Linked DNA regions of Homo sapiens. The protein of the gene in region 1 interacts with the protein of each later gene in a pairwise test. Each region holds a gene or a part of one and is shown in the gene's direction. Other genes may lie near its edges.

The links.
Region 2: the proteins of MYCBP2 (region 1) and HUNK interact in a two-hybrid assay, tested with the Homo sapiens proteins (one large-scale study listed by BioGRID and IntAct).
Region 3: the proteins of MYCBP2 (region 1) and BTG3 interact in a two-hybrid assay, tested with the Homo sapiens proteins (one large-scale study listed by BioGRID and IntAct).

Annotation. Positions count from the first base shown.
Region 1 is NC_000013.11:77,317,066-77,320,718, reverse strand, and holds part of MYCBP2 (E3 ubiquitin-protein ligase MYCBP2), read left to right. Parts: intron 1-3,653. UniProt on the Homo sapiens protein: Atypical E3 ubiquitin-protein ligase which specifically mediates ubiquitination of threonine and serine residues on target proteins, instead of ubiquitinating lysine residues.
Region 2 is NC_000021.9:31,917,909-31,921,561, forward strand, and holds part of HUNK (hormonally up-regulated neu tumor-associated kinase), read left to right. Parts: intron 1-3,653.
Region 3 is NC_000021.9:17,602,750-17,606,402, reverse strand, and holds part of BTG3 (protein BTG3), read left to right. Parts: intron 1-1,405; coding exon 1,406-1,543; intron 1,544-2,126; coding exon of another isoform or gene 2,127-2,258; intron 2,259-3,653. UniProt on the Homo sapiens protein: Overexpression impairs serum-induced cell cycle progression from the G0/G1 to S phase.

The DNA of each region.
Region 1 (3,653 bases):
AGGTTGTCTCACTATTTAATATGTTAAATCTGATTACTTGGGTAAGACGGTACCTACTAGATTTCATCTCTGTAAATGTATGCTTTTTCCATTTGTAAAGAACAAGTAATCACAGGGTAAAAATTTGAGCACATTGTGAATGCCTTTTACCTAATGCTTTTAGCATTCTTTGATAATCCTTGTCTGAGTCAATAATTTCATTAGGGGTTGCAAAATGATGAATTAAAAAATAATTCTGTTATTTCTTCTATGTTTATTAGCTGGTACTCTTCTGCAAAGAAGAGTTGGCCTTCACTGACTGTCAGTGAAATGTAGTTTCTCCTAATCCAGCAGCATAAATGCTTAATTCTCTTCCCTCATTAGCCAAATTGGTGTAATAGTCCAGTGGTGGTGTGGCAGGTGCTGTGGTTAGGCTTTCAGATCCCGCTTTCAGGCACATGTTCCCCTAGCTCTTGGCAATATTGGCAGCTAAAACTGATTGCAGCTGAGTCCCACTCCACGCATTGCCCTGAGCCAAGAGTTGCCTCCCCCAGAGTCATGCCTCCTCTTCAGGGGCAGTTTACATCTAATATCTATACAGTGTAGGGATATAAATGCCTAGCGCTTTTGCTATAAGACAAGCCAACCTTGAAGTCTATCCCAACACCAGAGAGCTCTCCCATGGGTCTGGCTGAGGGCTTCCTGGGACTGCATTGCAGATCAACTCCTTCCTCTGTTCAGTCTTACGTCTTTCACTGCCCCACAGTTGTTGGTTCGGAGGGCACTCCGCAATAAACTTCCGGTGTGCACATCTGCATTTGAGAGTCTGTTTCCTGGGAACCCTCCTACCCAAAGCAGTTGGTGCCAGGAGTGGTCTCAGAAAGTAGACTTTACAGTGAGGTTTTGAAGCTGGATTATTGGCTGGCTGGCTGGCAATGAGAATCGATTCTGGTGCTAGATGGAGCACTAATACTGATAACGCTTGGCATGCACTGTAGCTATGCAACTTAAAACTTTCACTGGTGGTGAGTTGGAATGCTATTCCTGTTGAAGGGAATGCACTGGTGAGTGCACTAGGCTTTTGAGAAGTTCAGAGAAATTAATTATGAGGACAATCATCAGATGGCTTTTGGTAAATAACATTGATAGATTGGAGAAAGATGATGCAAGGTGGAAGATAATTGGGGGCAAAATGTAAAAGGAAATTTATTTAGCATCATGTAAAGAAACACATATACAGTAAGAGGAAAAATCTAAGGCTTCAACCCAAAACTTAATTTTAAGGGTAGCAGAGCACCAAGGTAGGTAGAATTCTCTCTCAGCTATGCTAAGGTCAGTGTTCTGGTTGGGCAGGAATCCTGACCCTTAGGATGGGGCATCTGAGTGCACTTGAAAACCCTGAAACCCCAAATTCCTCTTAACCCTCTGGGCCTGCAGAAGTGGCCTTCTTCTACTAGCTAGAGGGGTTGCTTGCAGACTGTGCTGTCCCTCTTACCCCCAGCTCCTCCTCTCTCGCCTACTGACTATCACCAAACCAACAACTAGGGTTAAGTCACAAGAACACCTAGTTCGGGGTGCTGGATCTGCGAAGGGAGGAAGGGACTGTACACACAAACACACACACACACACGTTCCCAAACTGCACCAAGGCACCCCAAAGCACCACCACAGACACAAAAGAATACCATGGGATATTTCAGAATTTTAAAGGAAACACAGCAATATCTGTCACAAATTACTAGCTTGAGGTAGTTCACGGTTTTGACATTAGCTCATGCCACATTTCTTTTGATGATGTCATATTTTTGCAGGGTTGGATTTTTACTAGTTGTGATACAGATCAAGCACTGTGCAAAAATCAGTGTGGAACAGGAAAGGAGGGTGGCATGTTCAGTCTGATTCCAAGTTTGAGAAGTTGTTCTGTGTCTAACAGGCACACATGTCATATTATCAAGTAATTGAAGTTTTTGTTTGTTTGTTTGTTTTGAGGCAGAGTCTCGCTCTGTCACCCAGGCCAGAGTGCAGTGGTGCGATCTCGGCTCACTGCAACCTCCGCCTGCCAGGTTCAAGTGATTCTTCTGCCTCAGCCTCCTGAGTAGTTGGGATTACAGGCGTGTCCCACCACACTCGGCTGATTTTTGTATTTTTACTAGAGGTGGGGTTTCACCATATTGGTCAGGCTGGTCTCGAACTCCTCACCTCGTGATCCGCCTGCCTCGTTCTCCCAAAGTGCTGGGATTACAGGCGTGAGCCACTGCGCCTGGCCCAGTATTTGTAGTTTTTAAGAAGGAAATAAAAATATTTTTCTTCCAATTTATGTGTTATTTTTTCAAATGTCTACTCATTTGTTAGGACATGAATTCTTGTTATTTGGATCTAACTACTTAATAAACACTACTGTTTGGTATTTCTTTTGGCCTATGAGTGCATGGAAAAATTACCGATGATGGCTGTGCATGGGCCCAATAAAAGGGTTTTCATTCACCAGTGCTGATCTAGCAACTGCTGCTGCTGAATATCCAGCCTGACAGCAGCAGAGATCAATCATCCTTCAAGCAGGCCAACCAGTCCTTATACAGTGGAAAGGACCATGATTCATTTTGATTGGATTTGAGACATATTCTGGGTCTGAATTTGTCTTTCCAGCAGGGTCTCACCCAGGACTACTGTTTGAGGGCTTGCAGGATGTTTGATCCTCTACTACAGGGATCATTTCAGAATAAGGGACCCACTGTTATGTTATGTTATGTTATGTTATGTTATGTTATGTTATGTTATGTTATGTTATGTTATGTTATGTTTTGAGACGGAGTCTTGCTCTGTTGCCCAAGCTGGAGTGCAATGGCGTGATCTCAGCTGACTGCAACCTCCGCCTCCCGGGTTCAAGCAGTTCTCCTACCTCAGCCTCCTGAGTTGCTGGGACTACAGGTGCACATCACCACGCCCAGCTAATTTTTGTGTTTTTAGTAGAGACGGGGTTTCACCATGTGGACCAGGATGGTCTCGAACTCCTGACCTCGTGATCCGGCCACGTCAGCCTCCCAAAGTGCTGGGATTACAGGCGTGAGCCACCGCGCCCGGCCGGGACCCACTTTTATAGAATAGGAGAATCATTTGTCCCATCTTGCACCACACCGTCCAGAAGCTGATGACTTGATAGAGCAGTAAAACAGTCCTTTGATGGCACAGCTGATGATGAGATCCTGCAGCTTGGGCATGATGCCCTGCAAGGGTGAGGCGCCCATTCTCCAGTGTTCCCAGTAGGAAGATCACATGAAATTAGGAGTGGCTCCGCATAGCATCACTCTGTGAATCACCTGGGCAGTTTCTGCTTCCCATCTCCATAGCTCTGATGGCAAGGGGTTAAAAGATCCTGGTTCTCAGAAGAGAAACATTTCCAACAGAGGGCGCTATGAGAATCCTGTTATACTTTAAAGTACAGCTGCCACTAGGATTTGGGGCTCCTTTTCTAAATAAAGAAGTCACCAGGCTGGGCACGATGGCTCACGCCTGTAATCCCAGCACTTTGGGAGGCCGAGATGAGTGGATCACGTGAAGTCAGGAGTTCGAAACCAGCTCAGCCAACATGGTGAGACCCTGTTTGTACTACAAATACAAAACAATTAGCCGGGCATGTTGGCGCGTGCTTGTAATCCCAGCTAATTGGGAGGCTG
Region 2 (3,653 bases), on another chromosome or scaffold:
GCCATTTGATAGCAAAGATTTAATTTCACTCTGTAAAACTCCCCCGACTCAAGTAGTTTATTTTGCAGCTAGAGATCCATTATTGCATTAGGCTTTACCCAGTTAGAGTCAGTGTTAGCTTTGTTTTGCCTGCAAACCTCTGATTACTGTCAAATTGAATTAGATGTCTCCCTTTGCTGATCACTGATTGACTTTTCCTTAATTTCCCATTCATTTTTTTTCCCCATTTCAGTTGTTATAGATGAAGTCGATTAAATGGTTTTGTGTAATCAAGAACGGCATTCCATTTCAGTATTATCAACTTGTAAGTATGGAGCTTGTAAGTCAGGGGGTGGATGAAAACAAGCTGATAATGAGCTGGTATTTGAAAATTGAGAGGGAGCTTAATAGGAAACCTTCTCCAAGGTGAGGTAGCTTAAGGGCTCAGGGTTTTCATGGAGGGAACCTTGATGGCAGAACTTGGGAATCAAGGTGTCAGATGATGGTAGGGCACACACCAGGGGTGTTAGTTTCCTGCAGCTGCTGTAACAAATGACCACAAACTTGGTGGCTTAAAACAACAGAAAGTGATTCCCTCACAGTCTGGAGGCTGGAAGTCCAAAATCAGTCTCATTGGAGATCAAGGTGTCAGTAGGGCCACGCTTCCTCCAGAGACCTAAGGGGAGACTTGGACTTTGCTTCTTCTCCCAGCCCCTGGTGGCTGCCATGGGCATCTCCTGGGCTTGTGGCCATGTTATTCTCTTGTCTCCGTCTTCACTTTGCTTTCTTCTCTGCTTGTCCATCTGATCCCCTCCGTCTTTTAAAGACATTTTTGATGGCATTTAGGACTCACCCAGTTAATCCAGGACAGCCTCCCCATCTGAAGACCATTAACTTCATCATGTCTGCAGAGTCCCATCCCCCTAAAGATGACATTTTCAGGTTCCAGGGATTAGGATGTGGGCCTATCTTTGGGAGGCCATTTTTCGACTTACCACACTGGGCCTGCTTCACGGAAGGCCTTGGTACGACGGCCCAAGGCCTGGGCTGGACTGAGTGGTATGAGGTTGAGGGGCTGGACTGAGCGGTATGAGGAGGAGGGGCTGGACTGAGCGGTATGAGGAGGAGGGGCTGGACTGAGCGGTATGAGGAGGAGGGGCTGGACTGAGCGGTATGAGGATGAGGGGCTGGACTGAGCGGTATGAGGAGGAGGGGCTGGACTGAGCGGTATGAGGATGAGGGGCTGGACTGAGCGGTATGAGGAGGAGGGGCTGGACTGAGCGGTATGAGGTTGAGGGGCTGGACTGAGCGGTATGAGGAGGAGGGGCTGGAATGAGTGGTATGAGGATGAGGGGCTGGATGGGGTTTCCAGGGGGTATTTCCCCAGCACCATAGATCACCTCATTGCCTTGTCCTTTCACCTTCAGGAAAGGGAGGAGGATGGGCTAGAGAAAGAGCAAGAAGTGAGAGAGTGGGGAGAAATGCTTGGAAATACTGCATTTGCACAGAAGTTGGAAGGTACAGGAAGAACTGCCTAAAGAAAAGCCTAGCATGCACCCTTAAGCCTGGCATGTGGGAACCAACACCAATTGTTAGGATGACTGTAATCGTACGGCTGTGATAATGAGGTCTAGATTCATGGAAAGAGCCACCTGGGCTGTCCTTTCTGTTCAGAGTGGTCTGCAGTGTAGACACTTGCTAACCAATTGTGGAGCTTCATAGGGTCCTATTTTGACATAGCTCATGGAGGTGCAAAACCCTGATATGGGCTGGTTCAGCCCTGGGAGTGGAGCCTGAGAGGGAGTTCGTGAAGACTCTGCTCTCCGTGGGTCTCATGGACGTGCGGGAGCAGAGGGGACGGTGGAGTCAATGAGGAATTGTCAGAGGCTCCTGAGACTACGCTGAAGGGCTAGAGTGAGGAGGAGAGAGAGGCTGCCGGTGAAAGGTGGCGTCATTCCCCACTGCCAAGGAGGGTCTCTCCATGCCTGGAAATGCGTCCCAAAGGGCATCAGATAGATTCCTTATATTTTCAGGGAAGCTATTTGTTCCTTGTGGCTGCTATAACAAATTACCACTCTGGTGGCTTAAAGTAACAAATTGATTCTCTCACAGTTCTGGAGGCCAGAAGTCTTAAAAAGTATTGGCAGGGCCACGCTCCCTCCAGAGACTCTAGGGGAGGATCCTTCCCTGCCTCTTCTGGCTTCCAGTGGCAGCCAACATTCCTTGGCTTGTCGCCCCTCACCCCAATGTCTGCCTCCTTCCTCCTGTGGCTGCCCCCTCTGCTTATTTGTGTGAAAACTCCTTCTTTCTCTATTTTATAAGGACACTTATGAGGACATTTAGGGCCTACCCAGGTAATCTAGGCTAATCTCATCTCAGAATTCTTCACTTAATAACTTCTGCAAAGACCCTTTTTCCAAATAAAGTCACATGATCCAGAGATTAGGCCATTATTCAACCTGGTACAGGCAATTGAAGAACTCAATAAGGTATCTTAACTATAATTGTGTACTCTGTTAAAAAGGCAGATTGTATTACTGCTGGGCCTTTAGACTTGTTTGTTTACAGTACTTGTAAGAATTTCATTGCCAGAGGGTGTAATTTTTTAGATACTGCCACACGGAGTGGAGCAAAGACAATGCCTAATTGTACTTTTCAGCATTCTTTTTTCTCCACCTCCCCAAGAGGATGGATATGAAATATGTGTGTGTCTATGTGTTTTTGGAGGGTAACAGTTAACAAAGCTGTTAGTTTAGCATCCCTTGAACTACTTGGGGCCAGACACAGCCAGAGTGTAACTTTACCTCCTGGGGGCTGAGAGCATCAGCCCGAGCTGACTTGAGGTAGTGCAGGCCCCATGCTGTGAGGTGTGGATGGCAGGGGCTCTTCTAGCCTGTCTGGTCCCCTTGGGGGCTGATTGACTCTTTGTTACTCCCATCTTTGGATTAAGGGCCTGAACCTCCCTATTAAAATGAGACTCTGGGCTGGGCACGGTGGCTCATTCCTATAATCCCCGCACTTGGGGAGGCCAAGGTGGGCGGATCACTTGAGGCCAGGAGTTTGAGACTAGCCTGGCCAACATGGCCAAACCCTGTCTCTACTAAAAATACAAAAATTAGCTGGATGTGGTGGCGGGTGCCTGTAATCCCAGCTACTCAGGAGGCTGAGGCAGGAGAATTGCTTGAACCCGGGAGGCAGAGGTTGCAGGGAGCCGCCAAGATTGTGCCACTGCATTCCAGCCTGGGCCACAGAGCGAGATTCCATCTCAAAAAAAAAAAAAAAAAAAAAAAAAAAAGAAGGAGACACTGCTCTATAGAGGAGATAATACATTATGCTGTTTATAGCCATCTTTGCTTTGGTGATTCCATTGGTTAGTCACTATTAGTCACTTGCTGTTTATGAAGCGCTGTGTGTCGTGAAGGGGGAGTGGTCCCTGCATTAAGCCATGACTTACATCTTACTGCAGATGCTGTTGTATAGGGACGTAGGGAAGGAAGGTGCGGGGGAGTCTCTCTGGTAGGGAGGTTAGCCTCTGAAGGACCTGGGGTTGGGGGCTTGAGTGGGGGAAGGGGGTGGCTGGAGTACCTGGAGAGTGATAGAATGCATGTCCCAGGGAGTGACAAGACATGCCAGGAGGGAGAGCTGGGAGGAGTTGGGACCGGGTGGTGGTGGGG
Region 3 (3,653 bases), on another chromosome or scaffold:
ACTTTGCCTTTGTTATATTGTTAATGGTGACGCTAAGATAGGTACGTATATACAGGGTTGAGTATTAAGGAAATAACTTGCTCTTTGGAGTCTAGTGGCCTGGATTTGAACCCTAGATCCATCACTTAGTAGCTGTGTAATGTTGGGAAGTTACTCAAACTCTCTCTGCCTCCTTTTTTCTTTATGCTGAGGAAAAAAGTATCTAACTCACAGGATGATCATGAGAATTAAGAGTTAATACATGCAAAGCATTTAGGAAATTGTCCATTGCATAATAAATTTTTTAAAATGCTTATTATTGTTAATATTATTATGTAGAAACACTTATTCCTATTACCTGTTGAGAACTTTTTCATTTTTTAAATAGAAATTAAAACCAACTAATAATTTAACTTTTACAAAAACTTTAAATAGCACATTAGTCTTTATATCATTGTATTTTACAGCGTAATTACTATTCATCAATTAACTTGTATTTCCATGTTTTATAGTTACAGGTCTGAGGAAGAGGTACAGTGACTTAACTAGGCTTACCTGATAAATACTAGGATTAGTGCTGAAATCCAAGTTCTCTTGATTGATTCTTGATTGTAGGCAGTAAATACTTTTCCTTCATAGGCCCTATTTCCCTACTTAATCAGAATGCTTATCATTTAACAGAATGCATATTTTTTATTTATTAAACATTCCATTAGGTAGATGTCGTATAATAGGTTAAAAAAAGATGGGACAGAGGCTTTATTGGTTTAGAAATTTTCCTCACTTAATTTTGACAACTATTTAAATAAAAGTGCTTGGGTAAATAGAAGTTAAATGAAATAAGCCAATAACATGTTAGTTAGGTATTTTAATCATAAGTATATGATATGAATGAATCTGTGTCCTTCACTTATCCTGTATTTATAGAACAATTATAGGTAAAGCAAGGGTGTCCTCTTACCACTTTACTATCTGAGATATAAAAGCAAGTTAATGACAGATCAGAATTTGTCGTAAGCATTTCCAAATACCATCTGAAACATTAGATGAGGCCTTTTGTTAGAGATTTTTTTGTATAGGAACTTGGCCTATAGAAACTTTTACCTTCAGAGTTCTAAAATTTCGTGCAACTTTCATACTCCGTGCTCATTTAATGTACATGGGTGGTCAAGTCTCTGGGTAGACTGAGGTAGACCCAGTACTAGTGATTTCCTTGGGCTCACATAGGTGCCATCTTTTTTTCAGGCTGCCTCTGTGCCTGTAGTTCACATTTATTATCTGTTTAGGATAGATATGCTCCTAGGTTCTCTACCAGGGTATTTTTTTATTACTATTTTATTACTCACCTTGGCAAGTATGAATAGATATTACGGCGTTTATGATTAAATTCATTTAAATCCATTAACGTAACTCCACTTTGTTGTAGATGTATTCGTGTCAATAAATTTCAGAGAGTTGATCCTGATGTCCTGAAAGCCTGTGAAAACAGCTGCATCTTGTATAGTGACCTGGGCTTGCCAAAGGAGCTCACTCTCTGGGTGGACCCATGTGAGGTGTGCTGTCGGTGAGTTCTCAAGTTTAGAGGCTGAACTGATGACCATGCTGGAACTAATTTTATGACATTCTGTCATGTACGGCCTGCCTGTGTATCTTTATGGCCAGGAGCTGGTGGTTTAACTCTCTCAGATGTAAATTTTATGAAATACTTTTCTGGAGGTGATGTTGAAGGACTAGTTAGATTTCTGCTTTATAGCCGAAAAAAGAAACTGATTAGGCGGGGGTTTTCTAGTAGTGCTTTGCCAAGAAGCTTATTGTAGACCAAGAAGTAGACACCTAGATTCCGCTAGGTGTCTATTATCTTTAATTGGTGGTGCACTTGTCTGTCTTCAAATTAAGAAGCTAATCCCAAATAATACTGGATAACCACTTTTGGTTTGTTTCTGTTTCTGTTTATTCTCCCTCTCTCCTCTTTTTTTTTGGGACGGAGTTTCACTCTTGTTGCCCAGGCTGGAGCGCAATGGTGCATTCTTGGCTGTCTGCAACCTCTGCCTGCCGGGTTCAAGTGATTCTCCTGCCTCAGCCTCCTGAGTAGCTGGAATTACAGGCGCCCACCACTGTGCCCGGCTAATTTTTTTTTATATTTGTAGTAGAGATGGGGTTTCACCATGTTGGCCAGACTGCTCTCAAACTCCTGACCTCGTGATCCGCCCGCCTTGGCCTCCCAAAGCGCTGGATTACAGGCGTGAGCCACTGCGCCCGGCCTCCTCCTTTTTGATTATGTAAGTGACTGAGTGATACTTCGTGGTTTTATTTTTATAATGGAAGTTATTTTTCACATCTCCTAATGAATAGAGTTGTGAAAGATCAGTGCTAGGTATGAAATCTTTTTGAACTCCACTTGCTCAAAAACCATTATTTGTGGACCAGGCACTCTCAGTTGTAGGGTTTTCAAAAACGAAAGCAACATTCTGCTTTTAGGTAATTCAGTTTGAAATTGAGAAGAAAAGTAAGCAAATTACATTGTTATCTGATTTATGTTAGAAATGTGTACAAAATGCAGTGGTAGGTTGCACAAAGTAGAAAGTTACTGCATCTGGTGAGGAGTCAGGAGACTACTGAGTAGGTGATACTTGAGCTGGGAGGTGAAGGATGAGCCATGGTTGACCAGGTGACAAGGTGGGAAGGATGTTCTAACTAGCAGGAAGAAGATGAACAGAGGCATGGAATTCCTGCAAGAATTTTCCTGTGGCTCTGCCTTTAGGATGTTTCTATTTGGTTTTGAGGTACAATTCACCTGACCACCTGGCCTCTTTATTGATTGTAGTAAAGTTGCTTTTTGAAGGAACCCTAACTATGTACTCCTAAGGTGGTCGCAGACTGACCTGATTCCAGCAATGAAGGTGGAGGTGAAGACAGGAGAGATGAATTACATGATTATTCTTCCATTAAATTTTGTCAGGACCACCGCTTGAGGTTACTACCTGATTTGCCAGTGGTTGGTGTAAGTTTATTGCTTTTGGAAACCAGATGTAGGTGGTAGAGGTTTGTGATAAACATTCTCCAATACTTCTTTCTCGGGTAGAAAAGGAGCAAGCTATCTCAAATTTAGGTCTGAGAAAATAAACATTTTTAGATTCTGGGACTAATTAAGGACCTGCTTTAGGCTAGTTTCAGACTTGGAAAACTTTGGCCACTGAACCTGTGCAGAAGACCTCCATTTATAAGAAATAGCTGTCAAAAAGCTACTATATTGAATTGTTTACTTTTTAATTTGACCTGCACTTAGATCCTAGTTGGCTCCTATTTAACACACAGTTAAGTTAGTTGTGTGGTTTCTTAACCCATGAAATGTGAGAAGCAGCATTTTAAAGAGGGTTGATGAGTCAGACGCTACCAAAAAATGTCATGTGGTCTGACATAGAGGCAAAAATGAAAAAGCTAAAAAATCAGCACGATTATGTTATCACACAATCAAATAGTTTACGTTCAATATAATGATCCTAAACCATCAGGGGAAAGTTTTTATGTCCAAGGATGTTTAACAAGTTACATAATTATATAAACATTTTGGACCTATGTATTTAAAATGCTTAAAATAAGTCTCAGTACCTGAACATAAAAACTTTAGTTATACGGACATTCTACTTCAGTAGACATTTCATTACTTGATGATG